Linked DNA regions of Homo sapiens. The protein of the gene in region 1 purifies or fractionates together with the protein of each later gene. This does not show direct contact. Each region holds a gene or a part of one and is shown in the gene's direction. Other genes may lie near its edges.

Region 1 (4,463 bases):
TGAGGACCCAGCTAGTAACTCCCCGTTCTGAACCCGCCATCGCAGCTCACGCTGTAAAGGACGCGCGCCTCAGTATAAATCAGTTCTATGCGGCCGTTAGGCAAGGAGGCCCAGTTGGGTCCTGCCCTGAGAGTGGGTTGGAATGTGATGAGATGGGAGAGAGGCAGTGGCAGGGACGAGGTGGGCGGACCTCCTGCTGATGGAAGGAAGCTCAGCCTCTGCAGTGACCTCAGGCCACCTGGGTCGCCATAGGCCTCTGACTGGCCTCTCTTGGCCTCAGGGTGAAGAGAATCTTCTACCAGAACGTGCCCTCTCCAGCGATGTTCTTCCAGCCCCTCTACAGTGTACACAATGGGAACTTCCAGGTGTGTGCAGAGACCACAGAAGGACATGGGGGGCAGGGGTTGCCCAGAGCTCTGGCCTGCCCAAGATGTTGGCTTTCACTGAGGGTTGGCGGCCAGTATGGGAGGCTTGTCAGTGCTTGGAGCCTTTTTTGTATATTCAGTGAATTTCAATTTATACGCGTATCTCAAATGGGGAAAAATTAGCTTTATTTTCCATTGCTGATTTCTTTTTGTTCTCAGGTCTCTAGTTCCATTGTTGATTGAAAAAATGTAAATTTCTCATAACTTATCTCTGTCCCCTCTGGTTTGCAGCTTTCTGCACCCACCATGTGCCTCACCTCCTCCTTCTGCGAAGGTGTCTGTCCTGTGGCCATGGGGAAGGGTCTGTGGTGTGTGTGCTGCCCTTGGGGCTCTCACTGCCTCTGGGCTCCTGCTCTGCCTGGTCCCCTGGTCTCCCCGGATCACATGATGGCACCACAGCTGAGGAGTGGGCTCTGCACTTCCCCCCCTTCCACCCATGTTGGGCTCCTACAGCCCAGGCACCAGTGAGCAACTTGGGGGTTGCATCAGCCCCTCCCCTCCCTGCTGGGCTGTTGGTTCATGCCCCCTGGGTGGGAGGAGGGGGAGAGGGAGAGCTCCAGTGAGTGGTCTCTGGTTTTTCCCCTCAGACTCCTCACTTTGGGCAAAGGACAAGAGGCAGTGAGGGCCCCTCCCTGGGGTCTGGGCCAAGCTGACCACTCTTCTCCAGAATCTTCCCTCCCTGTCCCCTTCACACTGTGGCTCCAGCTTACTATGCAGAAAAATCCTTTTCTCTCTCAATGAGGAGCGTAGTTTTCAAGATTTTTGTCCAAAAATATAATTTGAACCATGAACCGGGCATCTGGCTCTTGGCAGAGTCTCCCTCTTTCCCCAAGGTGGTAGATGTGACTGTCAGGAGCCTGGGCAGCTGACGACAAGGCTGAGCAGGTCAGATTGTGACTGTCCCCTGGACTGTCATCCTGTTGCGGGCACCAGCTGTTCCCTAGAGAACTAGGACACCTGCCACGGGTTATTTAGACCTGCGGGTGAGGATCTGGTGCCATAGGTTGGTCTCCAGGGAGCACTGCAGTGATGGAGGGTGTTGTGTGTGTGATGCATGGGATGGAGGCTCCTGGTCCCACCAAGGGAACAGCTTCCTTTTGGAGGCGGGGGCCTCCTGTGGCCCCACAGAAGGATCCAGGTCTGCTGGCCATAGCCGAGTGCTTTGAAAGTCACCAGTCCTGACAGCGATTCGTGTGTGTGTCTGTGTGTGTGTGTGTGTGTGTTTATGTGTCTGTGTGTGTTCGTGTGTGTGTCTGTGTGTGTGTTTGTGTGTGTATGTCTGTGTGTGTGTGTTTATGTGTGTGTGTCTGTGTGTGTTTAAGTCTGTGTGTGTTTGTGTGTGTGTGTCTCTGTGTGTGTGTCTGTATCTGTGTGTGTTTGTGTCTGTGTGTGTTTGTGTGTGTGTCTGTGTGTGTTTGTGTGTGTGTGTCTGTGTGTGTGTTTATGTGTCTGTGTATGTTTGTGTGTGTGTTTGTGTGTGTGTGTTTGTGTTTATGTGTGTATGTCTGTGTGTGTCTGTGTGTCTGTGTGTGTATGTGTCTGTGTGTGTTTATGTGTCTGTGTGTGTTCGTGTGGTGTGTGTGTCTGTGTGTGTGTGTTTGTGTGTGTATGTCTGTGTGTGTGTGTGTTTATGTGTGTGTGTCTGTGTGTGTTTATGTCTGTGTGTGTTTGTGTGTGTGTGTCTCGTGTGTGTGTGTCTGTGTGTATCTGTGTGTGTTTGTGTGTGTGTGTGTCTCTGTGTGTGTGTGTGTTTGTGTATGTTTGTGTGTGTGTGTGTGTGTGTTGGGAATGCCCAGTCTCTGCAGCTGCTGAAAGGCCCTGAGGCACATGCTGTCAGGAGCTGGCTCTGTCCTGGGCAGATATCACCATCTGTACCTCGGTTCAGGCTGCCGTGGGCACCAGGCCCTGTGCTGGGGGAGTGCTGAGGAGCCTGAAGGGACTCAGGGTCCCGTGATGAGGCTGGGCTGGCACATGGAGGAAAGACAGAATGTCCAAGACACAGGCGCTGCTTGGCCTCTGGGTGTGGACCTCAGGAGGGCTTCCTGGAGGAGGAGGGATGCTGGGCTTGCCAGAAAGGAGGCAGCTGCTCCCAGGATGAGTTCTGAACATGCTACCTGAGCCCTTCCCTCCTCCCGTGCTCTGTTCCAGACTTGGATGGGGGCCCACGGGGCCGGTGTGCTGTTGAGCCAGGACTGTGCTGGCACCCCACAGGGAGCCTTGGAGCCCTGCGTCCAGGAGGCCACTGCACTGCTCACTTGTGGCCCAGCGCGTCCTTGGAAATCTGTGGCCCTGGAGGAGGAACAGGAGGGCCCTGGGACCAGGCTCCCGGGGAACCTGAGCTCAGAGGATGTGCTGCCAGCAGGGTGTACGGAGTGGAGGGTACAGACGCTTGCCTATCTGCCACAGGAGGACTGGGCCCCCACGTCCCTGACTAGGCCGGCTCCCCCAGACTCAGAGGGCAGCAGGAGCAGCAGCAGCAGCAGCAGCAGCAACAACAACAACTACTGTGCCTTGGGCTGCTATGGGGGATGGCACCTCTCAGCCCTCCCAGGAAACACACAGAGCTCTGGGCCCATCCCAGCCCTGGCCTGTGGCCTTTCTTGTGACCATCAGGGCCTGGAGACCCAGCAAGGAGTTGCCTGGGTGCTGGCTGGTCACTGCCAGAGGCCTGGGCTGCATGAGGACCTCCAGGGCATGTTGCTCCCTTCTGTCCTCAGCAAGGCTCGGTCCTGGACATTCTAGGTCCCTGACTCGCCAGATGCATCATGTCCATTTTGGGAAAATGGACTGAAGTTTCTGGAGCCCTTGTCTGAGACTGAACCTCCTGAGAAGGGGCCCCTAGCAGCGGTCAGAGGTCCTGTCTGGATGGAGGCTGGAGGCTCCCCCCTCAACCCCTCTGCTCAGTGCCTGTGGGGAGCAGCCTCTACCCTCAGCATCCTGGCCACAAGTTCTTCCTTCCATTGTCCCTTTTCTTTATCCCTGACCTCTCTGAGAAGTGGGGTGTGGTCTCTCAGCTGTTCTGCCCTCATACCCTTAAAGGGCCAGCCTGGGCCCAGTGGACACAGGTAAGGCACCATGACCACCTGGTGTGACCTCTCTGTGCCTTACTGAGGCACCTTTCTAGAGATTAAAAGGGGCTTGATGGCTGTTCCAAAGTGTTGATGGCTGGGAGAAGGGGCCAGAGGAGGAGTGAGGGGTGGGGTTTGTCCAGCCCTGGGCTTTCCGGGCTCTAGAGATAGCATGGTGTAGGCTCAATGACAGTTCTGGGGACAGCAAGTTGGAGGTTCAGGGGCAGCTTCAGGACAGCAGGATGGAGGCTCAGGGACAATTCCTGGGAGGCCAGTGCCCTCGTTCCTCCTTGTCCTCATCCTCCCCCTTGCTCCAGGAAACTGAGAGCTGAGCCTGGAGCTTCCAGACAGTCAGTGCTGGGGGTGACCATCCAGCAGTGATGGTGGCCTGTGAAGGGTCCTGCTTCTGTCCTCAGCCTCTCATGGGGTGGGCTTGTGGAGGAGCTGTGGTCTGGAGAGAGTGGCAGTTGGAGCAGAACGTGCCTGCGTTTGTTTCCTAGGGCTGTCGTAACAAAGTGCCACAAAATGGTTAGCTTAGAACCACAGAGATTTGTTGTCTCACAATTCTGAAGTCCAGAAGTTGGAAATAAAGATGTTGGCAGTGTTCCCAACCACATGTTCTTGGGCTCCCATGAAACAGAAGTTGATATTAGGCCAAGGAAGCTTCCCAGACAAGACTTTATTAAGTCTTATGCCCCGAAAGTTTGGGCAGAAGAGAGACGGTGCAGGAGGAAGAATTCTTGGCTGACTCCCCAAGGGGAATGCATTGTGGTGTCTTAAGGAGGGTGACATACATAATTTATGAGCTACATGAGTGTCATTGCACATATGGGGTGGAGCGAAGGGTGCTCAGACGCATGCTAACACATACGTTGCATGATCAGAAAATGGCAGATAAGCCCCTCCCTGGGTGAGGACTTTAGTATTATCATAAGACCAGGGTCATTCTCCTGGCCTTGTGCACAAGCAG
Region 2 (2,313 bases), on another chromosome or scaffold:
AATGAGTACCTTGTTCAAGAAGCTCTAGATCGACTGATGGATGGAAGAACGGTGTTAGTTATTGCCCATCGTCTGTCCACCATTAAGAATGCTAATATGGTTGCTGTTCTTGACCAAGGAAAAATTACTGAATATGGAAAACATGAAGAGCTGCTTTCAAAACCAAATGGGATATACAGAAAACTAATGAACAAACAAAGTTTTATTTCAGCATAAGGAAGCAATTACTGGTAAACAATATGAGACTTTAATGCAAAACAGTGTTGCAGAAAAAAAACTCAGAGACTATGAAATACATAAACCATATATCAAGTTATTTGAAAAATACCTATTTTTTTCCAAAGTGTGTAAAAGATTGTTTTGAAACGTACCTGTTCTCAAGATCTTTTTATTCAGAGTTTTAATAATTGTAACTTTTTAAATGTCTATAGCACTGAAGTTATTTTCAGGTTTTGTATTTTCTTTTCTTGTGGAATATTTTAATTAATATAGCATGGCACCTCATTTTCTTTTGCCTGCTGTTAAAGATTGAAGCTATTGTCAAATGACAACTTTAAAAAGGCAATTATAAATAAAAAGCCTGATTATTTTAGGCCAGTTTACCAATCACTGTGTAATTCTTCTGGTAGTATTCTACCTACTTTTAAGTCTAATTTTACAGATAGAATAATGGAAATTGAAAATTTAACCCTTTATTCCGATAATCTCATGAAGCAAACCTAACTATTTAACATCAGCTGGAAAGAAGGGAACATTTATATTGCCCATCTCCTGTGTCTTCAAAGGTGTGAGAGCTGAGGAATATGTGTTCCTATGGGAACTATGTTTGAATATGTGCAGTTTTCAACATTTTGGCACATGAAAGCCTGACAAGTTTTTAAAAGGGCAGAAGCTTTATTTTTTGAACAGGAAAACATGTTTTTTAAATTCACATGTTTGTATGAGTACTTTTGCGAAGCAAGGCATGAACTGCTAGGTATTATTAAGAATGAATGATTTTTGCATTTAAGTTGTTTGAAGGCATGTATTTTGAAAAATATCTGTTACAAATTTATAATTTCAAGACAAATTGAATCTTATTTTATAATACTTTTGGAATTTCATTAATAAGGCTAAAATTTGAGGAATATAACTAATTTTCAGCCTTAAGACATTTAAGTTTGGAAGTCCTTGCTATTCAACAGAATAACAAGAAAACTTCAGAATGTATCACTCTCCTGAAAAGAAGATATTAATAAGCCCTTTTATTTATGGTTATAGTTTTATTTATAGTCTCAAAATTCCTAAAGCAATGCTACAACCATTGAATTTGCCATATTTTGTATCAGTGCTGTTAATTTGCTGTTGCCTCAAGAAAAAGTGCTTTTTCTCCATGGATGAGGCTAGACCCTAAGAAGTAATTAAGTCAATGTAAATCAAATGGAAGTTTTCCCATGAACTAAGCATTTATTAGTTCCCTGATTAGACTGGAAGAAGAAACCACTATTTCATGAAAAGCATGGAATATTATATTTTATTGTTCATAATTAATGAATAAAATTGATATGAATGAATATAGTGTTCTTTGAATTAGTAAACAGTACATCTGTGACAATCATTTTTAACAAGCTCTACTTGTGTTCTTTATAAAGTGTGATTTTCAGAAAGCAAACAACACAATTACAAGGTTGAATCTGAGGAAAATAATCCTTGTGCCATAGAAGTATTTACGAAATTGCATTTCATTGTTATGTTTTATTTTCTGATACATGATGTTCAATTTTATCTTTAGGTAATATTTTATATCATAGATTAAAATTTATAGTGAACTTTATCTGTGTCTGTCACTTTTTTTTTTTTTATGACCCAGGAACCAAAGATGCAGTCTGTCATTTCTTATAAAACTTCTCACTACATTGTTTCTTAGTAGAATTTGGCTGTGGAGATTCAGGAATAAAGAAAAGACTAACATTACACATATCCAAAAACATGTTGTAATTAAAAGTTCCATTCATTCCTCCTTACCAAGTTTGTTGAATGTCATCACTTGTTTGCTACTTACAAATATTGTTTAATTGTTTCACTGCAGTAAATAAGTATCTCCTACCTACATCAGGGACAAGGAACTGTGCTGTGAAGTTGATAGATGAGTAAGCCACAGTTTCTGCCCTCAAGGAGCTTCTAGTTTTGAAGGAGTGGGAAGGCAGGGGAAAATTAATAACAAGAATGCAGCTAGGGATCATAAAGAGGTGTAGTTGTAACACTGTGTTCTGGTATCACTTTTTTGTTTCCAGAGTGTTTGCATGTTACATTTGATACTTTGACAAGCCTGTA
Region 3 (4,341 bases), on another chromosome or scaffold:
GTTTGAAAAACACTAGAAGCTGACATGAAATTTTCTGTGTATTGTCTAAGAAACTTGGTTTTCTGATTTTAGCTTGAGATTTTCTTCCGTAACCGCATCTCCTCTGACAGGGAGATCTTGAAGTGTATGTTGGGGTTCCAACACTTGATTAATAAGCTGTGTTTTTCCCTCCAATTCCAAATGATTTTCAGCATCAACTGCATCCATGTCAATATTTGTCGTCTTGGGTAACAAACTTTTGGGCCTTGGATACAAAATCCTTGATGAATGTTTGAGGTGCTGGGAGAGGAAGGGATGGGGAGGATGCCTCAGGCTGGACACTTGGACCCACCGACACCAGAAGTTTGATTTCTTCTTTGTCAAACCACAAGGCAGGATTACTGCCCACTGCTACTGGTTGATAGCATTTAAAAGCTTATCATATCAGTATAAAAAAGATCCCTGGAATGATTAGACTTTCCCAAAAAAGGAGCTGAAGCCTTCAGAGATAATTAGCTTCCTCATCCTGTGAGGGAATTAGAGATGGGTCAAGGGCTTGAGAAGAGAATTCTCAAACTGGAGTGGGGGTTGAACTATCACTTTCCTTTCAACTCTTAAGAATCTACTTTCAGGGGCTCTTAAAGGGAGGCCATTATGTATACCAGATTCTGTGGAATCGGGAAACAAACGGTGCTAAATAAAAAAGTTTCTTCAGGGTGGGAGGAAGAGGCCAGAATTGTGATTGTATTAAAAGTTTACACCATCAGCTTTAAATATTTGCTTATGTGTGTAAATATCAAGAGGTCTTTGTTAGCTCGACACTAGTTAGTAAATCCTGTGTTTCTAAAACAAATGATATTCACTCTAGAGTGTGATGATTGCAGAACTTGGGAACAACAAGTAGTCAATGAATGAATAAATGATTATCTGAATAGATGTTATGTTGTTCTTGATAAAGTCCTATAGGAAGGTGGCCCAATTGTGCCTTTTCACAAAAGTACGTTATATGACAGGAAAGCATTGTAGCCCAGACATAGTATTTGGGATGTTTCCATCCTTAGTTGAGATTTTTTTTTTTTTTTTTTTTTTTCCGACAGAGTCTCACTCTGTCACCCATGCTGGAGTGCAGTGGAGCAATCTTGGCTCACTGCAACCTCTGCCTCCCAGGTTCAAGCAATTCTTGCACCTCAGCCTCCTGAGTAGTTGGGGTTACAACGATGCGCCACCACACCTGGCTAATTTTTGTATTTTTCATAGAGAACAGGTTCCATCATGTTGGCCAGGCTGGTCTCGAACTCCTGGCCTCAAGTGATCTGCCCGCCTTGGCCTCCCAAAGTGCTGGGATTACAGATGTGAGCCACCGTACCTGGCCTTAGTTGAGATATTTACATGGAACCTTTTTCTTAAGGACAAGTGGTATTTTCTTGAATGTCTAAGAAACAGTTGGGTTTTAAAATATTGATCATATGTAAATGTGTATATCATGAAATAGTGGACAGTGTGGGCTTTGGAGCTAGATATACCTGGGCTTATATCCCGGCTCTGCCAGGGTTCTTGGGTGTTTATTCAGTAGTTATTTATGGAGCCTTTTCAATATTCCAGTCTTTGCTAAGCACTGAGGCCACAGCAATGAACAAGGTAGACAGGGTCCTACCCTTAATGGAATCTATGGTCTAGTGGGACAAATTAATCTCTGTAAACCTCAGTTACCTTTTCTGTAAAACTGAGATAATAATACCTTTCCATACAGTTCTGGTGAGGCTTTTAGTAGACAATGTGCTAAGTACATAGGAAGTAATGTAAAAACGTTAAGCCATTAGAATTGGTAACTCTGTTTTCCTGGCTGGAGAAGTTAGGAGACATACGTTATTAAGTGACTGTTCTATGTTTTGCTGTAGTAAAGTCCATCTGTTAAAAAACTTGAGCAATAATTATAATTGACGTTTATTAAACACTGAGTATGTACTAGATACTGCCCTGAGTGCTTTCCATGTTTTAACTCATTTCTCAACAATCCTGTGAAGGATGTGTTCTTATTCATCACATTTCCAGTTGTGGAAAATTAAGGCACCAAGTTCTCACCTGGGAGCATTTCAGTGCTGTGTGTGATGGAGCTGGCATTTGAACCCTGGCAGTCTCCAGGGATGGTACTGTTAACATCACAGTTAGGATTTAGAGCTGTTTAAAACAGTACAATCATTTCCTGATTTTAACTTTTCTGATCTAAAATCGGAAATGTGATGTTAAGTGATACGATATTTGATATTTTTGATAAATAACATATATTTTAGTAAATAAGTCACCCAGGAACTTTGCATAACAGTGACTTTACGGGTTCAGAGAGACAGTGAATATCATCTCCTGAAGTGCTAATAAGTTTTTCATTGGAGAAAAGAATAAACCATTTGTCATTGCTTTAGTACTGTAACATTTGTAGTCTTTTAAGAGGAACATAATTGGAGAAGCAGAGTACAATATTTCATCTCTCTGTAATATGCATTTGTTCTTGGGTGAATTACTATATTCTCCTAAGATGAAAGCTCAGGCATCTGGGGAACATTTTTACAAAATGACCTTGAGCTGATAGGCATCAGGCATTATTGGCAAATGGGGAAAATACTACTTTAAAAATCTAGGATGTTTCCATCAACAGCACAGAACTTGGTATATTTAGATTCTTCATCAACCTCCATTGCAAAATATTAGAATAATAGAATTAAAAACTGGATGTGACCTTCAGCCATCATCTAATCTGAATGCCTCATTTAATGGCTAAGGAAAAGTGAGTCCAGACAGTGATTTTTGTATTTACTTAGCCTGTTTATCTTATCTATCATATTTATCTTACCTGTTTGTGTTAAATAGAGCCTTAGAGTGAAACCATGAGGTTATAAGGCTTACCTTGAAGTAAAGTCTGGAAAAGTCATGAAGGTTCTGTAATATACAAATACTGTGTTGATAACTGTTACTAGTATGATTTGTATTAATGCTTTTTTTTTTTTTTAGTTAAGAAGGAGATGCTTTCTTAGAATATTTCAAATTTTAACTCTATACATCATGCCTTCATATTTAGTGGTATTGTTTAAGGCTTTCTTTTTTTTTTCTAATCTTGGATTTATGAGCGTAATTCATTGCTTATTTTCTTCCTTCCATTTACATTCCTTCCATAGAATGGGAGCTGACTGATATGGTGGTGTGGGTGACTGGAGCCTCGAGTGGAATTGGTGAGGAGCTGGCTTACCAGTTGTCTAAACTAGGAGTTTCTCTTGTGCTGTCAGCCAGAAGAGTGCATGAGCTGGAAAGGGTGAAAAGAAGATGCCTAGGTAAGCGGATCTGAAATAGCAGCGGTGCTTCCTAGAAATAAATCAGTCCAAACTCAAATACAGTTTTGGGACTTTTAGAGAGGAGTGAGATTTCCCCCCGGCTCCAAATGTTCTACATGCTTCATCTCAGTTCCTCTCCTTTTTGCCTTAATTGGCTGCCCTCGCCTTTTTCTTCTTTTCTGCCACCTTTCTATGCTTTTTTTGCACTGACTCTTGGCATTAGGGAGTGACCAACAATTATATAAAATGCTGGTGGATTTTTAGTGACCAAGTATCTTAGATTTTTGTCTTAGAGAAAAAACAGTTGGGTTCTTATCCATGACATACATGTATCTGATCATAGAAATTAGGAAGAATCCTTACTCATTTTATTAAAGTATCAGATATTAAAATCATATGGGATAAGACTTATTATATAGGATAAAAGAACAGGAATGGAATTAGCTTTAAAAAATACAACTTGAGGTAATACTTTCATATTCACATAAAGGGCAACAGTGTTAATATTTTTGTTTGAATTTTGGTGTAGTTATGTTTACTTTTTTCTTTTTGAGATGAAGTCTCACTTTGTTGCCCAGGCTGGAGTACAATGGTGTGATCTTGGCTCATTGCAACTTCCGCCTCACAGGTTCAAGCGATTCTTGTACCTCAGCCTCCTGAGTAGCTGGGGCCACAGACGTGCACCACCACACCCAGCTAATTTTTGTATTTTTAATGGAGACGGGGTTTCACCATGTTGGCCATGCTGGTCTCGACCTCCTGACCTCAGGTGATCTGCCTGCCTCGGCCTCCCAAAATGCTGGGATTACAGGTGTGAGCCACCGCACCCAGCCATTATGTTCACATTGAAAGCAACTTCAAGTATAAAGTTATTATTTTTCATGGAACATTTATTAATAGTACCTAAACTGAGATAATTTTGAATTTTCCAACAGACCATTTTTTGGGCCATCTCTCTACCTGTCATTCTTTTAAATCTTTAACTTTGCTGATCGAGCTAACCACCCAGAAATGAGAGTTAGTTGCCACAGTAGTGCTC
Region 4 (4,341 bases), on another chromosome or scaffold:
AGGAGGGTGTTTTCTGACTCCTGCCTGGTGGGGTCCCTGAAGATGATGCCAAGCCACCTGGGCTTCCTCTCTGGTACAGGGCAGGGTGGAAGGCCTTTCATGGAGTTATGGGGCAGCAAGTGCTTGCTGTACTTGACCTTTCACCAATTTTTTTTTTTTTTTTTTTTTTGAGACAGAGTCCTGCTCTGTTGCTCAGGCTGGAGTGCAGTAGCGTGATCTTGGCCCACTGCAACCTCCACCTCCTTGGTTCAAGCGATTCTCCTGCCTCAGCCTCCCGAGTAGCTGGGATTACAGGCATACGCCTCCACGCTCGGCTAATTTTTGTATTTTTAGTAGAGATGGGGTTTTGCCATGTTGGCCGGGCTGGTCTGGAACTCCTGACCTCTGGTGAGCCACCTGCCTTGGCCTCCCAAAGTGCTGGAATTACAGGCCTGAGGTACCATGCCCAGCAATTTTTTTTTAAGTGCACATTTGAACTTGATTTAAGATGTGTCATGTGCCGGACACTGTTCTAAGCACTAACATATGTTAACTCTCAAGAGGTCCCTGCTAGATGCTGTTTTTAGCCTCATTTAAAGATGGGGAAGCTGAAATCCAGAGCACTCATGAAGCTAAGGCTGAGATGAGATTTCATCGTAGGAGTCTGGCCTTCCCCCCATCATGCACCCGTGACTGGGGTCTGTGCACTCCAACTGTGTGTCTCCAGCCCAGCCACAGGAGTACCTCATATTATGCTCTGAACAGCTTCCTTAACCCCAGGTGGAGCCACAGACTGCCTCTGTCCCCTGTTAGGTCCCAGGGTCCTCTAGGTGAGGGTGCAGAATCTTTTTCCATGTGGATACTCCAGTCTGAGGGACAGAACCACTCACCCTCTGCCAAATCCCTTCTGTGTTTGGCCATGTGACCACTGATGATGTGTGTTATGATCACTGGGGGTGTGATGAGGAAGAACGGTTGGAGACTACTGCTGAGGTAACTGACAGCGAGATGGTGGGGGGATTTGGGGACCACTGATTGTGATACTGTCTCATTGGCCCTTTCTCCATCTGTGTAGAGAAGGCAGCATCGACTGCTGATTCTAAAACTGTTTTTCTTTCTAGCTTTAATTGTGAAACAAAATTATATCATGAGCCACAGCTCTATCCAGGTTGAACCCACCATACATAGCTGAGAAAAAATTGCCTTCTGAATGCTGGTGCACCCTGGTCCCTTCCTGCTGGTTGTTGGTCCTGTACAGGGCCTGTGCTCAGCTAGGCCCCTTGGTAAGGTAGAGGACTAGAAGGTCGTCTTCCTTCTATTGTTGGTACAGCTAGCTGGGAGAGGCAAGTGACTTGTCTAAGGTCACACAGCTGGTGAGCAGCAGAGCGTGGGTTCAGACCCAGGTGGAGCTGGCTGCTAGCTCAGGGTTCTTTCTCTTTTGCTTTCAGTAGGCAGCTGTGCTGAGCTGATCACATCTCAGGGAGCTGAGAAGTGAACACAGCACCTTGGCTCTGGAGTCCAGAGTTGTTTTTTTTTTTTTTTTTTTTTTTTGTTTGCGATGGAGTTTCTGTCTGTCACCCAGGCTGGAGTGCAGTTGCGGGATCTCAGCTCACTGTAACCTCCACCTCCTGGGTTCAAGTAATTCTCCTGTGTCAGCCTCCAGAGTAACTTTGATTACGGCGCACGCCACCATGCTGGGATAATTTTGTATTTTTAGTAGAGACGGGGTTTCACCATGTTGGCCATGTAGGCTGGTCTCAAACTCCTGGGCTCAAGTGATCCACCTGCTTTGGCCTCCCAAAGTTACGGGATTGCAGGTGTGAGCCACCTCTCCCCGGCTGGAGTCCAGAGTTTTCTTTCATGTGAAGTAGCACAGGGGTTTGGTGCATAGGGAGAGAGTGCATATTTTCATCACAAGGAAAAGTGACCGAGGTTCAGAAGTAGCTGGAGAGGTGAGCTTGCACCTAGCCTTGCCAAATCCTCCTGAGTTTGGAGTGCTTTCCTCTGTAGCCAGTACTGTGACACTTTGTAGAGTTTGTCCACTGGTAGATTTGGCTTTTGGGTTAACAGGTTCATTTTTTTTAGTTGGAAAGTGATGTAATATACTTTCTACCTTCACTAGCTAATGAATTTTCCTTTTTTTTCTTGACAAAAAGAAAACTTTTATTTGGAAATAATTTCAAACTCCCGGAAAAGTTGCAAGAGTAAAGTGAGTGCAGAGAACACCTGCATATCCTTTGCTGAGGCTTCCCTACTGTTGGCATTTTACCTTATTTGCCTTATCCCTCATCTTCCATGTGTATGTGCATATCTGTGTACTCACACACATTGCTTTTTTCTGAACCATTTGAGAATAAGTTGTATGCGCCATGGCCGTTTATCCTTGTACATGTTAACCATTGCAGAGAGTAGAGGCTGCTCCCACTTAACCCCACCCCATCGTTCTCACTAACACCTGCTATGTGCCAAGCCCTGTGTCACGTGGGAAGGTCTCATGGGTGCAGGAAGCCCTGTAGTTAAAGCCCAGGTTGGCCCAGGTGGAGGCAAGCTGGCATCACTGCATGTCAGGGTTATTGTTTTAGTTGGCGGTTCTGGGTTTAGGAATGAAGACTGCTGTTGTGGAAGATTTGTGCTGTGTTAGGCTGCGCCTTCGCTGCTCCACTTCCCAAGCTAGCTTGTGGGCACTTTCCCCACCCCTTCCTTCCCACTTCCCAGAGTACTGAGTGATTATATCCTCTTAGCAGCGGTGGCCGGTGATTTGTTTGTGCAGGTGTCCTTCTAGCAGTGACGGCAGGTAATCTTGTTACGCACAGATCCTCTTAGCAGTAATGGGAGGTGAGTGATCTGTGTGTGTCCTCTTAGCAGTAAGGGCAGGTGATCTAGCTGTGCACGTGTCCTCTTAGCCATGGTGGGAGGTGATCTGGTTGTGCAGGTGTCCTCTTAGCAGTGATGGGAGGTGATGGGAGGTGATCTCATTATGCATGTTTCCTCTTAGCAGTAGTGGCAGGTGATCCGGTTGTGTGCATGTCCTCTCAGCAGTGATGACAGGTGATCTAGTAGTGCATGCATCCTCTCAACACTGATGGCAGGTGATCTAGTTATTGACTCTCTCCTGCTGGACCTGAGCCTTTGACAGGCAGGGAGTTCCTCTGCCTCTCTTGGTTGTTGGCATAAGGACGACCCGATTGGCATTTAGTAGTTTCTTGACTCTAAGTGGAATGCATCAGTGACAACATTTAAGGACCCCGTAGATAGCTCTTGACTGATTAGATGTCTTTTCCTTGGTATGCTATTAGATTTTCTCTTATGTGCTGTTATGTTTGGGTGCTGAGGTTTTGATGACCGTCCTCTTTCCTTTCTTTCACTGCCAGTCTGCAGAGTGGGCTCGGTAATCCCGAGAGACCAGTTTTGGGCCAACAGTTCATTGAGCAGAGTGATGCATGGGCTTGGGTATGGTTATTATGTGATAGCTGTGTAACACCTGTATTTGTGTTTCTGACATGATTTACCAGTTGTCCTGGGAAGTTTAGTCAAAGCCAGTCCATCTCATCCTGCCATTCCAAGCTGTGTGTCCTGTCAGTGTGGACATGGCGGGCTTGGCAGGGCAAGTCTAGGTTGGAGGGTGAATAGCCTGTGGACCCAGATGCCCTGGACCTTCTGGGCATCCTCCTGGGAGATGGGGAAGCTCAGGTCTGGTTTTGCCTCAAATGAGCTGTCTGTAAAAGTAGCAGCTGGGATTAGATCAAGCCTTCTCATCCTGGCCCATGGCAGGCAGTTGGGTATGGTGGCTTAAGAGCATGGGCTCTAGAGCCACACTGCCTAGGCTCAATCTGTTCTACTGCTCACTCTTCAGTTTCCTCATTTGGAACATGGACATCGTAACAGAGCTTTATAGAGATGTTGTGAGGATTAAAATGGGTAAGTATAAAATTCTAAAAAGTGTCTGACATAAAGCAAACTCTTCATCAGGCAAAATGTTAGTGTTAATCACAGATAGAGTTCAGGAACCCTGAACTGAAATGTGAAATGTGAGGTGGTTTGTGCACAGGGCTTATTGGTCGGGAGAGAGCTCCCTCAGGAGGTGGCAGAGTACAGTGGCTCTGAGGAGTGTCTGCCACACAGAGAGTGCTCTTTGCTGTTATGATGGGATCAGAGGGACTGCGTATGACTTGCTGAGAGCCCCCGAAACAGCCATGGTGCTTTGGACAGGGCTGGGATTGTTCATACACGTTTTGCTCTTTGTCACATTCATGCTCTGTCACCTGGGCCTGGTCAGGCACAGACTGGGCACTCAGAAATCAGTTATTGAACAAATGCACAAATGCCTATTTATATTTTGACATAAAGAGCAACAGCTACTTT
Region 5 (4,782 bases), on another chromosome or scaffold:
ATGATTCCTGCCTCCTGGTATTTACGCCTTGTGTGATTCCCTTTTCTTGAGTGCAGATGGCTCCTGTGCTTTGCTTTTAACCATAGGAGATGGCAATGATGATGGGATGCCACTCTGTCACATATATAGTAAGTTATATAAAACTCTATCATCATAGTCTGGAGCTAGAGACCCTCATTGTCAGTTTCAAGAAACTAAGTGGCTATGTAGGAGAAACCTGCATGGCAAGGAAATGTGATAATCTCTAGGAACTGCAGGTGGCTTTTGGATCCTGAGAGAGGCCTCCAGCAGACACCCAGCAAAAATCCCAGGCCCTCCTCAGTTATACAGTCACCCAGCAAAAATCCCAGGCCCTCTTCAGTTAAACAGTCGCAAGGAAGTTAATTCTGCCAATAACCCAAATGGGCTTGCAAGTGGATTCTTCCCTGGCTGAGTCTCCAGATGAGAATGCAGCCTGATTGCAGCCTTGTGAGACTAAGCAGAGGACCCAGCTAAGCTGTTCTCTGGCTCCTGACCTGGAACCTGTTAGATAACGTTTGTTTTTTGTTTTTTTTGAGACGGAGTCTTGCTCTGTCACCAGGCCGGGTGCAATGGCACAATCTCGGCTCACTGCAACCTCCACCTCCTGGGTTCAAGCAATTCTCCTGCCTCAGCCTCCCGAGTAGCTGGGACTATAGATGCCGTGCCACCATGCCCAGCTAATTTTTTATTTTTAGTAGAGACGGGGTTTCACCATATTGGCCAGGATGGTCTCTCTCGACCTTGTGATCCACCCACCTCGGCCTCCCAAAGTGCTGGGATTACAGGCGTGAGACACCGCGCCCGGCCGATAATGTTTGTTTTAAGCCTTAAATTTGTGGTAACTTGTTACACAGCAGTAGAAAATGAATACTCCCAGAATTCCTGAAAAAACACTGGGGCCCTCAGGCATGACCCCTCTACATTATGTGCTACCTAGGAAAATCTGGGCCTGGGCCCAGGACACAGAACTTGGTGAACGAGGCCAGAGGGTGTGCCACACACCTCCAGTGGGCACTCTGGACTTCAAGGTAGAAGAGGTCCTGGCTTTCAAAGCAAATCGTGTGCCCCACCTCCCCGCGCCTGCCTGCCTCTGCAAATGCCTGTCAGTTCGACCCTCAGAGATGGGCGAAGCCTGGGGAATTACAGACTGCCAGAAGTAGATCACGAAGTCCACCACCTGAATCTCGGCGTTTGGCACCGTGCCTGGTACACAGTGGACGCCCAACAAACGGCTTGCTTGCAGAACAGAAAGAGCCCTCGAGTGCGCGTCTGCTGGCCCCCTCTTTGTGCAGAAGGGAAAAGGGAGACTGGGAGGGCCGGGGACCTGCGGGGCCCCGCCGCGGGTCAGAGCTGGGCCTCCGGCCAAGCGCCATCCCGGGCCCAGGCGGAGGGGGCGCTGCGGCGGGAGGCCGCGGCGGGCGGTGGCGGCGGGCCGGGGGCGGAGCGATGGCGGGGCCGCCCCAGTGAGTGAGCGAGCGAGCGCCGCGCGCGCCGCCGCTGCCACCTCCGCTGCTCGGCCCGGTCCCGGAGTGGCCCGGCCGGCCCGCGGGGCGCGGAGCCGAGGCCCGCGGCTGGCTGCATGAAGGACTGCGAGTACCAGCAGATCAGCCCCGGGGCCGCCCCGCTGCCCGCCTCCCCGGGGGCGCGCCGTCCCGGCCCCGCCGCGTCCCCGACTCCGGGCCCCGGGCCCGCGCCGCCCGCCGCCCCCGCCCCGCCGCGCTGGAGCAGCAGCGGCAGCGGCAGCGGCAGCGGGAGCGGGAGCCTCGGCCGCCGCCCACGGCGCAAGTGGGAGGTGTTCCCGGGTCGCAATCGCTTCTACTGCGGCGGCCGCCTCATGCTGGCCGGCCACGGCGGCGTCTTCGCGCTCACGCTGCTGCTCATCCTCACCACCACCGGCCTCTTCTTCGTCTTTGAGTGAGTTCCGCTGCCTCGGCGCCCCCTCCCAGCCCCCTGCCGCGCACCCCACCTTCCCAATCCCTGCTGGGCACTCCGTGCCTTCCCCTTCGCCTCCCTGGTCCTCATCCTCCCCGCCCCTTTGGGATCCTCCTCGGGCCTCTTGTCTGCCCCCCTGGCCCCTGCGCACCCCCATCCCCGCCAGATGCCCCATCCTCCTTGGTCCATTTGGGTACCCCATCCGCGCTGGTGCCCTCCACCCTCCCAGCCCCTCCATTCTCCCTGACCCCACCCTGGCACCTGTCTGCCTGCCACTGCCAGGAACACCAGCCTCCATGCCCCTCCACGGCCCCCATCCTCGCTGCCCTCTCAGAACCTGCCCCAGGGCTTCTTGAACAGGCCCCTCCTGCTCACCCATCCCTGGACCATCTCTTGCCAACCCCCCAAGTTCTTTCTGACCCTTGTATCCCTTCCTGACCACTTCTAGATCTTGTGTGTCCTTTGGCTGTGCACACCCACCATAAACATCCTAGTCATCCTCGCTGCCCTCTCCGGGTCCCTCCAGGGTCCCCTCCTTTTCTCTAGTCTCAGACACCAACCCCGCTTTTGCTTCCCCTCAGCCACGCACACCCTAGGCCCCAAGGCATCTTTTCTCAAAATCTTTGGGCCTCTCGGGCCCCCTTTCCTTCTCCAGAACCTTCCTTAGGTTCTCCAGAGCTTCCTGTCCTTCCCTCAGATCCCGCCCGCCTCCACCCAGCCGGCTCCCAGGCCCCTGGCCCCCCTGCTGACCACCTGGCTTTCTTTCCCTGCTCAACATTCTGGAACGTCCCTCTGGCCTGTTCCACATCAGCAACAGCTGCGGTGCCTTGTTGTTTTTCAGGAAAGACTTCGGAGTGCTTTCGTGTGACAGGTCATATTTGCCCCCCTAGGTTTTTGTCCTCTTCATATCCCCCGGTGACCCAGGATTGGCCCACACATAATCTCCATTTTATGGATGGAGGGTCATATATTTGTATTAGAAGTTTTCCACCCACCTCTGAGCCACCTGCACTGTGATTCCTTGCACACACACTCACACGCCCACCCACCCACCCTTGCTTCATAAGCCCTGCTGTCCCCTCCCAACTCCCCATCCTTTGTGGTTGTTCCTCTTAATTATACAGTGTAGTTAAGAACTCTAACAGACCTGGTTCAAATCCCAGCTCCACCACCCACTAATTGCGTGACCTCAGGGCAGTCACTTCACCCCCTCAGTGCCCCAGTTTCCTCATCAGTAAAATGGGATTTATAATAGTACCCACCCCGTAAGGTTGTCCTGAGGGTGGCATGAGGTCACACATGCAAGCTTTTAGCCCAGTAACAAGCACACTATGTTGGCTGCTATTAGTACTTGTGTTGTCTTTATCAAAAAACACTTCCCAAGGGCATGTGGCCATGGTAAGGCTATCATAGAGACACCCGCCCCCAGGTACCCTTTCTAGCTGCCAGATCATGTATCTGCAACTTTGGGTTTCCCCTTGAAGCAAGGTGAAGACTTCCTATAAATTAGCTTCTCCCTTTACCCTTTAACCACACACTCTGCCCTTTTTTTTGAGTAGGGTGGATAAAAAGTTCAGGGATGATTTACAAGCAGAAGCTCTGGGGGGCCCAGAGCTCAGCTCTGGGCTGAGTTTCAGATCCACTTCCCTGGGCTGGCCACATGAGTGTTTTGGAAATGCCTTTTCTAGTATCCCCTGGGCTGCCCTCTCAGTCCCCACACCCAGGGCTGCAGCCGAGGCAGGAGGAAGCAGTACTTGCCGTGGTTGACCCACATGACCCTGCAGTGTGATATCTGGCCTAACTTCTGAACTAGAAGCAGGACCTTCTCTGGGTTGACCGGGTATCTTCACTGGTGACTGTTTTGTCCCCAGCGAGGGAGAAAGCAAGGACTTCTGGGTTTGGGGAGAGCTCGTGAACCATGTTGCAGTTTGTCCCCGCTTGTCCTCATTGGGGGCTGGTAGATTGGCAGAAGAGTTTGGGTTTGGGCCGAGAGCTCACCTGGGTCTGGACTGGATGCTCCCCATTGCTCTGGGAAAAGGTAAGGTGCTCTCTAAGCCTTTCCTGCTATGAATGGCTTTGCTTCTTTGTTTGGCTTGGTGGATTGTTGCACAGGCCTCCAGCAGGGCTCCCAACTTCTGCCTTACTTCTCGCCCCCACACAACAGCCAGAGTGCCCTTTTGATTCTAACTCAGGCCTGAATCCTCCCTGGCCTCTGTCCCCTGCTGTCTTCTGTCCCCGTCTTCCCTCCAGGCATGTCATCCTCCGTGCACACTCCTACCTCTGGGCCAGTGCTTGGAATCCCCTTCCTGCAGGTGGCCTCATGGCTCACTCTCTCACATTAGGCCTCCCCTGTCCATCCGCACAGCATAGCAAACCACTCCCCTCCTGCACCTCTCTTCTCCCCTCATTTATCGCTCTCTGAAGCATTTGCCACCACCTGACATATTATGGTATACTTGTTAGTTTCTGGTCTTTGCCCATGAGAGCAGGACATTCTCCTCTGTTGCACCCTTAGTGCCTAGAACTCGCACCTGGTATGCAGTAGGTGCTCAATACTTATTGAATGAATGAATTGACAGTGTATTTGAATTAATTGACAGTGTATTTGCTGGGAGGCTGGAAACCCTAGTTCTGTCATTGGCTGGCTAGATGACCTTGAACCTAGCTGTGGGCCTGGGAGAGCTGTTAGCCTCTGGCAAATCAGGAGGCTAGGACTTGGTGGTTCCTGCAGGCTCTACAAGTCTTAGATTTCAAGTCTTCTCTGTCCCCCCACACAAGTCTGATTGCATATGAACTGGATTCATTGCCATGTGGGTGACACTGAGCGCC
Region 6 (4,341 bases), on another chromosome or scaffold:
GGCTAACACGGTGAAACTCCGTCTCTACTAAAAATACAAAAAAATTAGCCAGGCGTGCTGGCGGGTGCCCGTAGTCCCAGCTACTTGGGAGGCTGAGGCAGGAGAATGGCGTGAACCTGGGAGGCGGAGCTTGCAGTGAGCCGAGATCGCACCACTGCACTCCAGCCTGGGTGACAGAGTGAGACTCCGTCTCAAAATAAAATAAAATAAAATAAAACACAAAACAGCATATTCTGTTCTCACACACGTCCCATTACGTTAAATGCTTCTCCTTTCCTCCATAGTTTGAAACCACAAAGTTGAGATGATTTTTTTTTTCCTTTTTTCCTCCTCCTTCCAACCATAGGGTTGTTATCTGGAATCTGATGATGTTTTGCGTCTACAAATGAGCATAATGGTAACAATGGAAAACTTTTCAAAAGAATTTGAAGAAAACACACAACATTTGTTAGATCATCTCTCTATTGTTTACGTAGCTACAGATGAATCTGAGACCTCAGGTAAGGTGGAATGTTTAAAAATTTTATTATATTTTCATCAGTCTGCATCATCATTCTATAGCATTTATGAACAGATTGTATCATAGCAAACCAAGACAAATAGCCTTTGCTTTAATTATTAAGTGATTGTAGTAGTAACTGGTTCTCAACCTACAACTGCTAAGAAGGCTGTATTATTTTGGGGAGAAGTGACAACTGCAAACTATTCTGAGTTTCCTTAGGAATAATTTTTCTTCATGTTTGGAGACAGTAAGGAAATTAAATGGGCATGACAGTTTAATATAAATATTTACAAAGTATTTGAAGTCTTGGGTTTCTTGTTCCACTTTTAATGATTTGCCTAAGCTCATTTAACCACATCATGCTGTTTTGTATTTTAAATAGCTAATAGGTTGCGGTTGTTCCTGGATGCTTGACAAGTTAGGTAGAATTTTAGTGTTCAGTTTTATGAATTTTATCTTTGGAAATGTGTGTCCTACTTATCAGAAATAAATGCATTCATCTGTTTAACTTCCTAAGAACTTTTTTCAGAGACACATTCTGTGATCCATGAAATTCCTAACGTAGAGTATACTAGTATCTTTTGGTTATCAAGACTTCTGAATGTGACTGTATATTTGTATTCATATTCAAGAAAGTATGGTTTTTATTCTTTGGGTTTTTTTGTTTGTTTTTTGGTTTTGTTTCTGTTTTTGTTTTTTTTAGACAGGATTTTGCTGTGTAGCCCAGGTGGGAGCACAGAGATGTGATCTCGGCTCACTGCAACCTCAGCCTCCTGGGCTCAAGCGATCCTGCCACCTTGGCCTCCCAAGTAGCTGGGACCACAGGCGCACACCACTATGCCTGGCTAATTTAAACCGTTTTTTTTTGTTGTTTTTTTTTTTTTTTTTTTTTTTTTTGTAGAGACAGGTTCTCCCTGTGTTGCTCAGGATGGTCTTGAACTCCTGGGCTCAAGCATTCCTCCCCGCTTGGCCTCCCAAAGTGCTGGGATTGCAAGCATGAGCCACCGTGCCCTGCTTTGGCAGTCTTAATTGGTTAAACAGCCTTTACCTTTCAGTCTTCAGAGCTGGCTGTGGTAGTGCTGGATCAGCAGGAGAGCTCTCCTGTCCTCAGTGCTTGGTGATTCTCATAGTGGCCAGTGAACATCTATGAGGGCAGATCCCTGACCCATGGGGACCACTTCTGTGGGTGAGGGCTAAAAGGAAGCCTGAAACCTGAGATCTCAGGATTTTCTTCTTTCCAAATGTGGTTATCCAAATGAGGAAATGAGGAGCTTTCTAATCAACAGGAGAACATAGCTTTATTTGAAGTCGTCCAGTTGGTTAGTTTCATTCAGAAGAGCATTGTGTGACCCTAAACTCAGAATTTTGCTCCTGGTAGTTCCTCATCATTTAGAGGGCTTAGGTTGGTAGGCATTTTTATGAGGATCTTTTTTCTTGTGATTAAAAAAGAAAAAAAAAAAGAAAACACCTCCTAGTTTTGATTTCAGTTTTGAGAAACAAGTTAACATTTTTTATAGAAATGTGTAATGTGGTATTTTAATGATTATATGAAGGTGTGAGAATGAGATGGCTCTGTTTTAATCTCTGATTAAATACTCTGCTTTAATACTCTGATTCTTTTGGACAGATGATTCAGCAGTAAATATGTATATATTACATTCAGGAAACAGCCTTATATGGATACAGGTAATTGTAAATGCTTACCTAAAGTAACTTTTAAAATTGCAAGTGTGCATTTAATTGTAGAATATGAGGGTTTTTCAGGAACAGAGACAGAAGCACTATCTTTATTCTTTTTTGCTTTAATTTAAGCCCATTTGCCCTTGCTTGAACCTCTGTTTGTATGAAGATTGTCAGCATCCCCTCCATATGGTTATGGCACAGATGCTGAGCAGTTGCTATGTATGGCTGGTCTGTGCTATTTATTCTAACGGTTCATTCAAACTGGATAAATACTCTCCCAGCTGAGAGTAGTCACATGGGACTTTTCTTTTATTTCAGGATATACGCCATTTCTCACAGAGAGATGCTCTGTCTCTGCAGTTTGAACCAGTACTACTACCTACTTCTACAACAAACTTTACAAAAATTGCTTCTTTTACCTGCAAAGGTACAGATTTTTAAACAGATTGTCATTTGACTTTTGTTATCTGGTTGTCATGATGGCAACTCTTTCTACAACTACAGATTAGGCATGGTTTCAAAAAAGTGAAGGGAATGCGTTTGATTTCAAGAAGTCCCAGCCTTAGTAGTTCTAAGATAGTATGATGTAGAAACTATTGTTGATGCCACTTTTATTCTGCCACATATGTAGAATTTTGAGTTTAAAGCTTAATATTCTGTGTTGATAACGATTAGGAAGGAAAGCACTGTTAGGTTTTTGACAGGAGTCTATGCAGGCTGTTTTTGAGGGAAAATTGGCAAATCTCTATGAAAATTTAAAATGCACATATTTACTCTTTGATCCTTAATTCTAGTTTTAAGAGTTTATCCTCCAGATATGTATGTATTCAAAACTGTACCTATAAGAAATGTGTGTTTGTTAGGACAGAACAGCTGATCATCTGTGTTCAGATGTGAGAGAGTGTTCAGAAACATGCATGGACAGCGATGCGAGCAGTGTGTGTACATTTAATTTTTTTTTAGAGGATATCTGTGTACTTATACATGCACAGAACACCTGGAAGGATGTTGCAGAAACTGCTAACAGCTGCCTCCTCCAAGATAATTGGGAGTCAGGGTGAAGAAAGGTAGATTTTATTTTCACATTTTTTTGTTAGTGTTTGAATTTTTAAAAACCATATATATAACTTTAAAAAAGTTGGTTATTAGCATCAGAGAGTTAAGAATTGAACACAAGCGACTCAATATTATAACCTAATCAAGGAGAGCTTAAAAGTATTATTTTGATCAATCAGCACTGCTTTCAAATGCAGCCCACTTTTTGCTGGTCAGCTCCCTTTTGCTCTTTAGGTTTTATTCCTTTCTTGCTCGTGCCTCCACACATTTTACTCTGCCAAGTGAGCTTCTTGTTTCACTTTTGTCATTTCTGGTAGAGAAGTTGGTTTTTAAAAGTATGGACTTCTGGATAATTGGCAACAAAGAAGATGACAGGAACATTTGAGAAAGTAGTTACCTTTTATGTCTGATTCACTATTTTAATGGAGACAGAAAAGTGAATAAAAATTTATAAATAAGACATATATCTTTTGTTCAGGCTTAATGAAAGAAAAGGTACTTAAGCTTCACATTTATTTCTTTATACCACAAAGCAGCTACATCATGTGACAGTGGAATTATAGAAGATGTGAAGAAAACAACACACACTCCAACACTAAAAGCATGCCTCTTCTCTTCTGTGGCTCAGGGGTAGGTTACTTCCACTTTCCCTGAAATCTTGTATGGTTGTTGTTGTTGTTTTCCCCTCTAGAAATGGTTTAAAAATATAGTGATATGATTTGTGTGATTCTCTCTCTCACTGGCCTTGCCTCCCCTTGCCTTAGCATTGCTAACAGGCAGTGAAAGGGATATTAGCTGAGTGGGGAAAAGGAAGTGAAATAATTCAGTTTATGAAATAGGTTCAGCATCAGGCATCCAGATGTGTGAAAAGAGTACATATTCACATGGTGTTTCTGAGTTGGCTTCAGGTTCTGGTTTGGTCCTGGCGGCCTCTGTGAGCTGTGCTGGCCGCAGCCTGGTTGCTTCCCCTCGGGCTTCCAGTTGCTCCCTATGTGAGCCAGAAGGTTGAAGGAGGCGATTGCCGAGGTTGTCTCTGGCGCTAGCTTTCATTTAGTAACGTTTTATGATGCTCCTGTTTTTGCAATTAGAGGCTCATAAGA
Region 7 (5,075 bases), on another chromosome or scaffold:
GTTGTTTTACAGTTAACTTTCATTTTTTTAAAATAAGTAGAAGGAGTACAATCTAAAATAACAATAAATGTATAGTATAGTAAATATATAAACCAGTAACAAAGTAATTTATTATCATTATTTAGTATGTTATACTGTACATAATTGTATGTGCTATACTTTTATACAACTGGTAGTGCAGGTTTGTGTACACCAGGATACATTGCACTACAACATAAAGACAGCTACATCATTAGGCAATAGGAGTTTTTCAGTTTTATTATACTCTCATGGGCTCACCATCATTTATGTGGTCTTTCATTGAAACATCATTATGGGACACATGACTGTATTTAAAAATGAAAAAAAAACCAGAATGGTTGTACGAGTACTGGAAGTACAGTTTCTACTGAATGAGTGTTGGTTTTGCACCATCATAAAGTTGAAAAATTGTGAGTCAAACCATCCTAAGTTGGAGACTTGTGTGTATTCCTAAGTGACAGCTCTGTGGTACATTAGGACATTAGGAATATTTGGGAATATTAGCAACTTTACTGGTTTCGATATCAGTCATTCTGGCTCTAAATTCTGGTTCTGGCTCTTATTAGCCAGGCTATTTTCTTTTTTTTCTATTATTATTATTATTATTTTTGAGACAGGGTCTCTCTCTGTTGCCCAGGCTGGAGTGCAGTGGCACAATCTCGGCTCACTGCAAACTTGACCTCCAGGGCTCAAGTGATCCTCCCACCTCAGCCTCCCAAGTAGCTGGGACTACAGGTGTGAGCCACCATGCCCGATTTATTTTTTTACTTTTTTCATAGAGACAAGGTTCCACTATATTGCTCAGGGTGGTCTCAAACTCTTGGGCTCAAGTGATCCTCCTGCCTTGGCCTCCCAGTGTTGGAATTACAGTCATGAGCCACCCTGCCTGGCCAGGCAGGCTATTTTCAACAAGCTACTTAACTTCTCTTAACTTCAGTTTCTTCTGTAAAATAATAACCATAGTAGAAGCTATCAAAATGTGAGATTTAAATGAAATGTGTAAAGCTACTAATCCAGTGCCTGACACAACAAAATTCTTAATAAAGGTTAATCATTCAATCAATACAAACAACTTTCTATTAAGGAGATTAAAATCTCTGGAGTGAAAGATTACACAAATGCTCCTTTTGACACTCTTATCTTCTTCTAATACCAAACTATTGTCAATTCCTGAACTCAAGATGACGTTGCTCACAGATCTTTACCTTTTTATCTGCCACTTCTCCAGGAGGACTGCCATTCTCCCACAAAGCCCCTATGCCTTTGTGGAGTCTTGGCTGAAACCCCAAGCTCTCTGCAAAGCTTTTCTTGGTATTGACATCACCACCATCCCACAGAATTCGTTAGTGTTACATGCTATCTCTGGACCTTGGACACACTTTTAATATTGTAACAAATGGTAATTACTGTATTTTCTTAGTGTCGCCTCTCTTCCACTAGACTCTGAGCTTTTGTGGTATTCGCTTTGTAACCACAGCATCTGTCTAGTTCTTAGCAAACAATAAGCGCAGGGTTGGATGCTGACGCATGACTTCATGACTTGGGCTCCCTCACTTAGCAGTAACGTGACCCTAGGTGACACCTCCTAATCTACACTCATCTGTAAAATGGCGGTGATAACTTGTACATGGTTACTACATGGAGTCCAAGAGACAGCAAGAAGGATCAGTAGCATGGTGCCCGCACCTAGCAGCCGCTAGCTGACTGAGGCCGAAAGAGGAAATGCTTTGGCCAACACTGGCCGGAAGGGGCGGGACCGCGAGTTAAGAGGAGAAGGCGCGCCCCACTGCGCAGGTGCAAATGGTAGGGGTTGTCGTGCCGGCTGATTCCGGGGACGCACTCGCGGCTGGGGCAGACCGCGGTCGCGTAGCTGACGTCATCGCCGTGCGCTGCCACGTCTGCTCAGCTCCGCGGTAATGGAGGCTAGGGATGGGTGCTGAAGTATCAGGCTCTGGCTCTAGCTTTAGCTCTGGCACTGGAACTGCGTCGGAGTCTGGGTCTGAGTCTGGCAGCCCGAAGCCTGGACACCTTTTCTTGATTCTCTAGGCGGGGGCTGCCTGCGTCCAAGCAGCTGGTTTGCAGCGTTCCAACGCTGGGAGGGAGTTCCCTTACCTGGGGTCCAGTCTGTAAAGTTGTCGCCGCTTTCTAGGGACCCCGCCCCACCGGCTGGGACTCTTCCATGCGTGAGTATTACTGAGCTGCCCCAAGGTCCGGCTGTCCTGGACCTGCCTCGGCCCTCTTGGGTGTGCGGCGGAGACTGCTTTGTCTACCTTTCTGCCGACTTCTCTTAGGGACCAGTCTGTTGAAGTTTGTGGTCTCCTGCAGTCCACCACACCGCATACTCTCACCTCTTCCGTCCCAGTTTTTTCCCTGCACTTTTCTTTCCCTTTGCTTGTTAATGGAGCAAGGACCAGCAGCCCCTGCATCCAGCGGTTTGAATGCTTTGTTTGACTTGGGGTTAGTTTACAGCCGAAGGCTGTTAGGAATAGGGAGCATTTGAAAACACGGGTTTTTTCCAGTGTCATCCTTGGGTTTTAGTTGTATTGTTTAGGAAACATTGGTATCCATGTTGACAGAATCATGATTTTTGCCGTAGAATGATGAAAAGAGCTTTTTTTTTTTTTTCCAGTGAGGATCTTTATCTTTTACTTGCTTCTTAATCTTGCAGTTTCAGTAATTTCTGTATGATTTTACACCAGCTTTTCTGGAGCGGGCATCCCCTTGAAGAGTTTCTTTCAATATTTTAACCCTAACATATAGAGATACCACTCGAACAGTTTTACTTTTAAACTGTTAAAAGAACTACTGGTACCCTTTCATTCCACTTCCTCAGTCCTGACAACCTCTGCAGAACAGGGGACACTCCCCCCCCCCGCCCCCCCCCCTTGAAGAAACACACTCAGAAGAACACACTCAGAAGTTAACTTATCCGGATAAGGTCAGATAATATGTGACCATCTGAGCTCACAAGCCATATCCCTTGATAACAAAACCTAATGTTTTATAAAGTGCCAATTCTTCTATATTTCAAGTAGTTTAAGTGTGAAACATTGAGCTGGAAATGTATAAGGTGTGATGTTTCTTGTAAACTTCTATTTGATTATAATATCTTACAGATGATACAAATCAGTTGACAAAAGACACAAATCATCACTTGCCTAAAGCTGAACAGAGCTTAGATCAGAACTTAGGCTTTTGACCCATTAGAGTCTGAGTAGTCCTTTAATTCGAATAACGTAAGTAGTAGACACTGGGAACATTCGTTTGAAAATCTTATTTTGTAAGGCCTGCTTACTCAGTGTTTGTCGTTGTTTTGTTGCCTACTTTAAAAATAGTCTACTGATGTTTAAATGTTTTTGTTGTCGTTCAGAGTTGAAACTGGTTGACAACCATTAACCTGGGTTGCAACTACAGGTGGCACTGGAAGCAGACTGGTTCCTGGACATGCCCGGTGGAAGGAGGGGCCCTAGTCGGCAACAGCTAAGCCGTTCAGCTTTACCTTCTTTGCAGACTTTGGTTGGTGGAGGCTGTGGCAATGGAACAGGCTTGAGAAACAGGTAAAGAAAAAATAAGGCTATATATAATTTTAATGTCCTTTGATCAGTAAGACTAACATAAAAGTCATCATGTCATTCAGATATTTGCTTATTGAGATTTATTCTTGACACTGTGGTAGAAATCCTGCCCTTCAAGACAAAATTCAGAATTCCAAAATACTTTGGAGGTAAAAAGATGTGAAATGGGGCCCACAAAGTGAAAGCAGTCCCATTCTTTATTTTGGCTGATCATCTAAATTCTTGTTATCCCCTTTTTATCTATTAGAAGAAGGGAGAAGTGAATGAAAATACAAGGTAAGTGTGATGGTTTATCTACTTATAAGCATTCTTTTTTTAGAGGGCAAATTATAAGTCAAATTCCATCAAGGATTTTAAATTGTCAAAAAATTGTTTGGTCTTAATAAATGTTAGCTGTTTTTTAGCTGGGTTAGCCCATGCCATCAGGAGGTTTGATAATGTAGCAGTTCAAAGAGATACTTTTACCTAATGAAGTATTTGCTCAAGATATTTTCTGCCAGCTAATTTCTCCTTCCTCCCTGAAAAAAGTTTTTCTCTTGTCTTGATTTTAATTTTCAGAGCTAGCAATCAGTACTACTGTATTTTCAGGCCTGTCTAATGGTATTTATGCACTTTTGTTTTCTAGGCCTGACCTTTGTCCTTTTTTTTTCCTGACTTTCCAATCCCTCTTCCACCCAATCTTTAAAATTAGTTCTGATCTCATCATTTCAGTGGAGCTCTCCCTGAAATTCCAGTTTGAAGGGATTTTTCCAGTCTCCGATTCTCATACTAATTTTTAATCCGAGTTTTGTTTATGTATGTATACAGAGTAACTAGTTTATGCTAGAGTATTTTTTACTCTGCCGTTCGTTGGATTTCCTTATTTTAAAAATGATGGTACTGTTTGCATCATAGCAGGATGTTGAAATAAATGAAGTAGTAAATTGCAGTAACTTTAAAAAACTTTACTGAATTTTACAAAATTTCTACAAATAAGTATTATTTTATATACTTAAAAATAAGAATGAGAATATGCGAAAATGCTTTTGAAGAAAGGTACTATCTAATATAGGTATTGAGATAAAAGTTGTTTGCTCTTTGAGGTACATGCCTTAATTTTATTAATATATGCTATCAACTTATTGATTCAGTACTTTCAAATTGTGATAGAAAATCTTAGCTGTCCCTAACTAGGATTCTAGCCAACTAAAAAATTCTAACTTTGCCTCCTAACTCTAGCAGTTCTTTGTTCGTTCTCTTTGACTTTGGCTTTGAGGATTCCTCTAGATAATTATGTTCTCTAGATAAAAATGTTCTTAGACTGTCCCATGAAATCCCTCTTCAGTGTCTCAGGGGTTGCTGTAGGAGGGCTTAGAAGGGAAAATGGATCAGGCAAGCCTAACAGTCTAGGCTTGAGTTTTCCTCGTCTTCTTTTAATTAGACTGACTCATTTTCCTATGTGTTTTAAATATTAAGATACTATGTAAAATATCATGAGGA

What was found.
Region 2: the proteins of IL9R (region 1) and ABCB10 purify together in Homo sapiens (affinity purification with mass spectrometry, with the first as the bait; one large-scale study listed by BioGRID). This does not show direct contact.
Region 3: the proteins of IL9R (region 1) and DHRS7 purify together in Homo sapiens (affinity purification with mass spectrometry, with the first as the bait; one large-scale study listed by BioGRID). This does not show direct contact.
Region 4: the proteins of IL9R (region 1) and DGCR2 purify together in Homo sapiens (affinity purification with mass spectrometry, with the first as the bait; one large-scale study listed by BioGRID). This does not show direct contact.
Region 5: the proteins of IL9R (region 1) and ZDHHC18 purify together in Homo sapiens (affinity purification with mass spectrometry; 3 studies listed by BioGRID and IntAct, with this or other methods). This does not show direct contact.
Region 6: the proteins of IL9R (region 1) and TMEM131L purify together in Homo sapiens (affinity purification with mass spectrometry; one large-scale study listed by BioGRID and IntAct). This does not show direct contact.
Region 7: the proteins of IL9R (region 1) and TMEM39A purify together in Homo sapiens (affinity purification with mass spectrometry; 2 studies listed by BioGRID and IntAct, with this or other methods). This does not show direct contact.

Annotation. Positions count from the first base shown.
Region 1 is NC_000023.11:156,007,243-156,011,705, forward strand, and holds the end of IL9R (interleukin-9 receptor isoform 1 precursor), read left to right. Parts: intron 1-280; coding exon 281-365; intron 366-656; coding exon of another isoform or gene 657-893; exon of another isoform or gene 894-2,573; coding exon 2,574-3,167; 3' UTR 3,168-3,575; downstream 3,576-4,463.
Region 2 is NC_000001.11:229,516,082-229,518,394, reverse strand, and holds the end of ABCB10 (ATP-binding cassette sub-family B member 10, mitochondrial), read left to right. Parts: coding exon 1-216; 3' UTR 217-1,813; downstream 1,814-2,313.
Region 3 is NC_000014.9:60,154,961-60,159,301, reverse strand, and holds part of DHRS7 (dehydrogenase/reductase SDR family member 7 isoform 1 precursor), read left to right. Parts: intron 1-3,149; coding exon 3,150-3,302; intron 3,303-4,341. UniProt on the Homo sapiens protein: NADPH-dependent oxidoreductase which catalyzes the reduction of a variety of compounds bearing carbonyl groups including steroids, retinoids and xenobiotics.
Region 4 is NC_000022.11:19,115,564-19,119,904, reverse strand, and holds part of DGCR2 (integral membrane protein DGCR2/IDD isoform 1 precursor), read left to right. Parts: intron 1-4,341. UniProt on the Homo sapiens protein: Putative adhesion receptor, that could be involved in cell-cell or cell-matrix interactions required for normal cell differentiation and migration.
Region 5 is NC_000001.11:26,825,205-26,829,986, forward strand, and holds the start of ZDHHC18 (palmitoyltransferase ZDHHC18), read left to right. Parts: upstream 1-1,483; 5' UTR 1,484-1,600; coding exon 1,601-1,935; intron 1,936-4,782. UniProt on the Homo sapiens protein: Palmitoyltransferase that catalyzes the addition of palmitate onto various protein substrates, such as CGAS, HRAS and LCK. Acts as a negative regulator of the cGAS-STING pathway be mediating palmitoylation and inactivation of CGAS.
Region 6 is NC_000004.12:153,581,061-153,585,401, forward strand, and holds part of TMEM131L (transmembrane protein 131-like isoform 1 precursor), read left to right. Parts: intron 1-346; coding exon 347-500; intron 501-2,129; coding exon 2,130-2,188; intron 2,189-2,503; coding exon 2,504-2,612; intron 2,613-3,774; coding exon 3,775-3,871; intron 3,872-4,341.
Region 7 is NC_000003.12:119,460,465-119,465,539, reverse strand, and holds the start of TMEM39A (transmembrane protein 39A), read left to right. Parts: upstream 1-1,924; 5' UTR 1,925-2,204; intron 2,205-3,391; 5' UTR 3,392-3,465; coding exon 3,466-3,578; intron 3,579-5,075. UniProt on the Homo sapiens protein: Regulates autophagy by controlling the spatial distribution and levels of the intracellular phosphatidylinositol 4-phosphate (PtdIns(4)P) pools.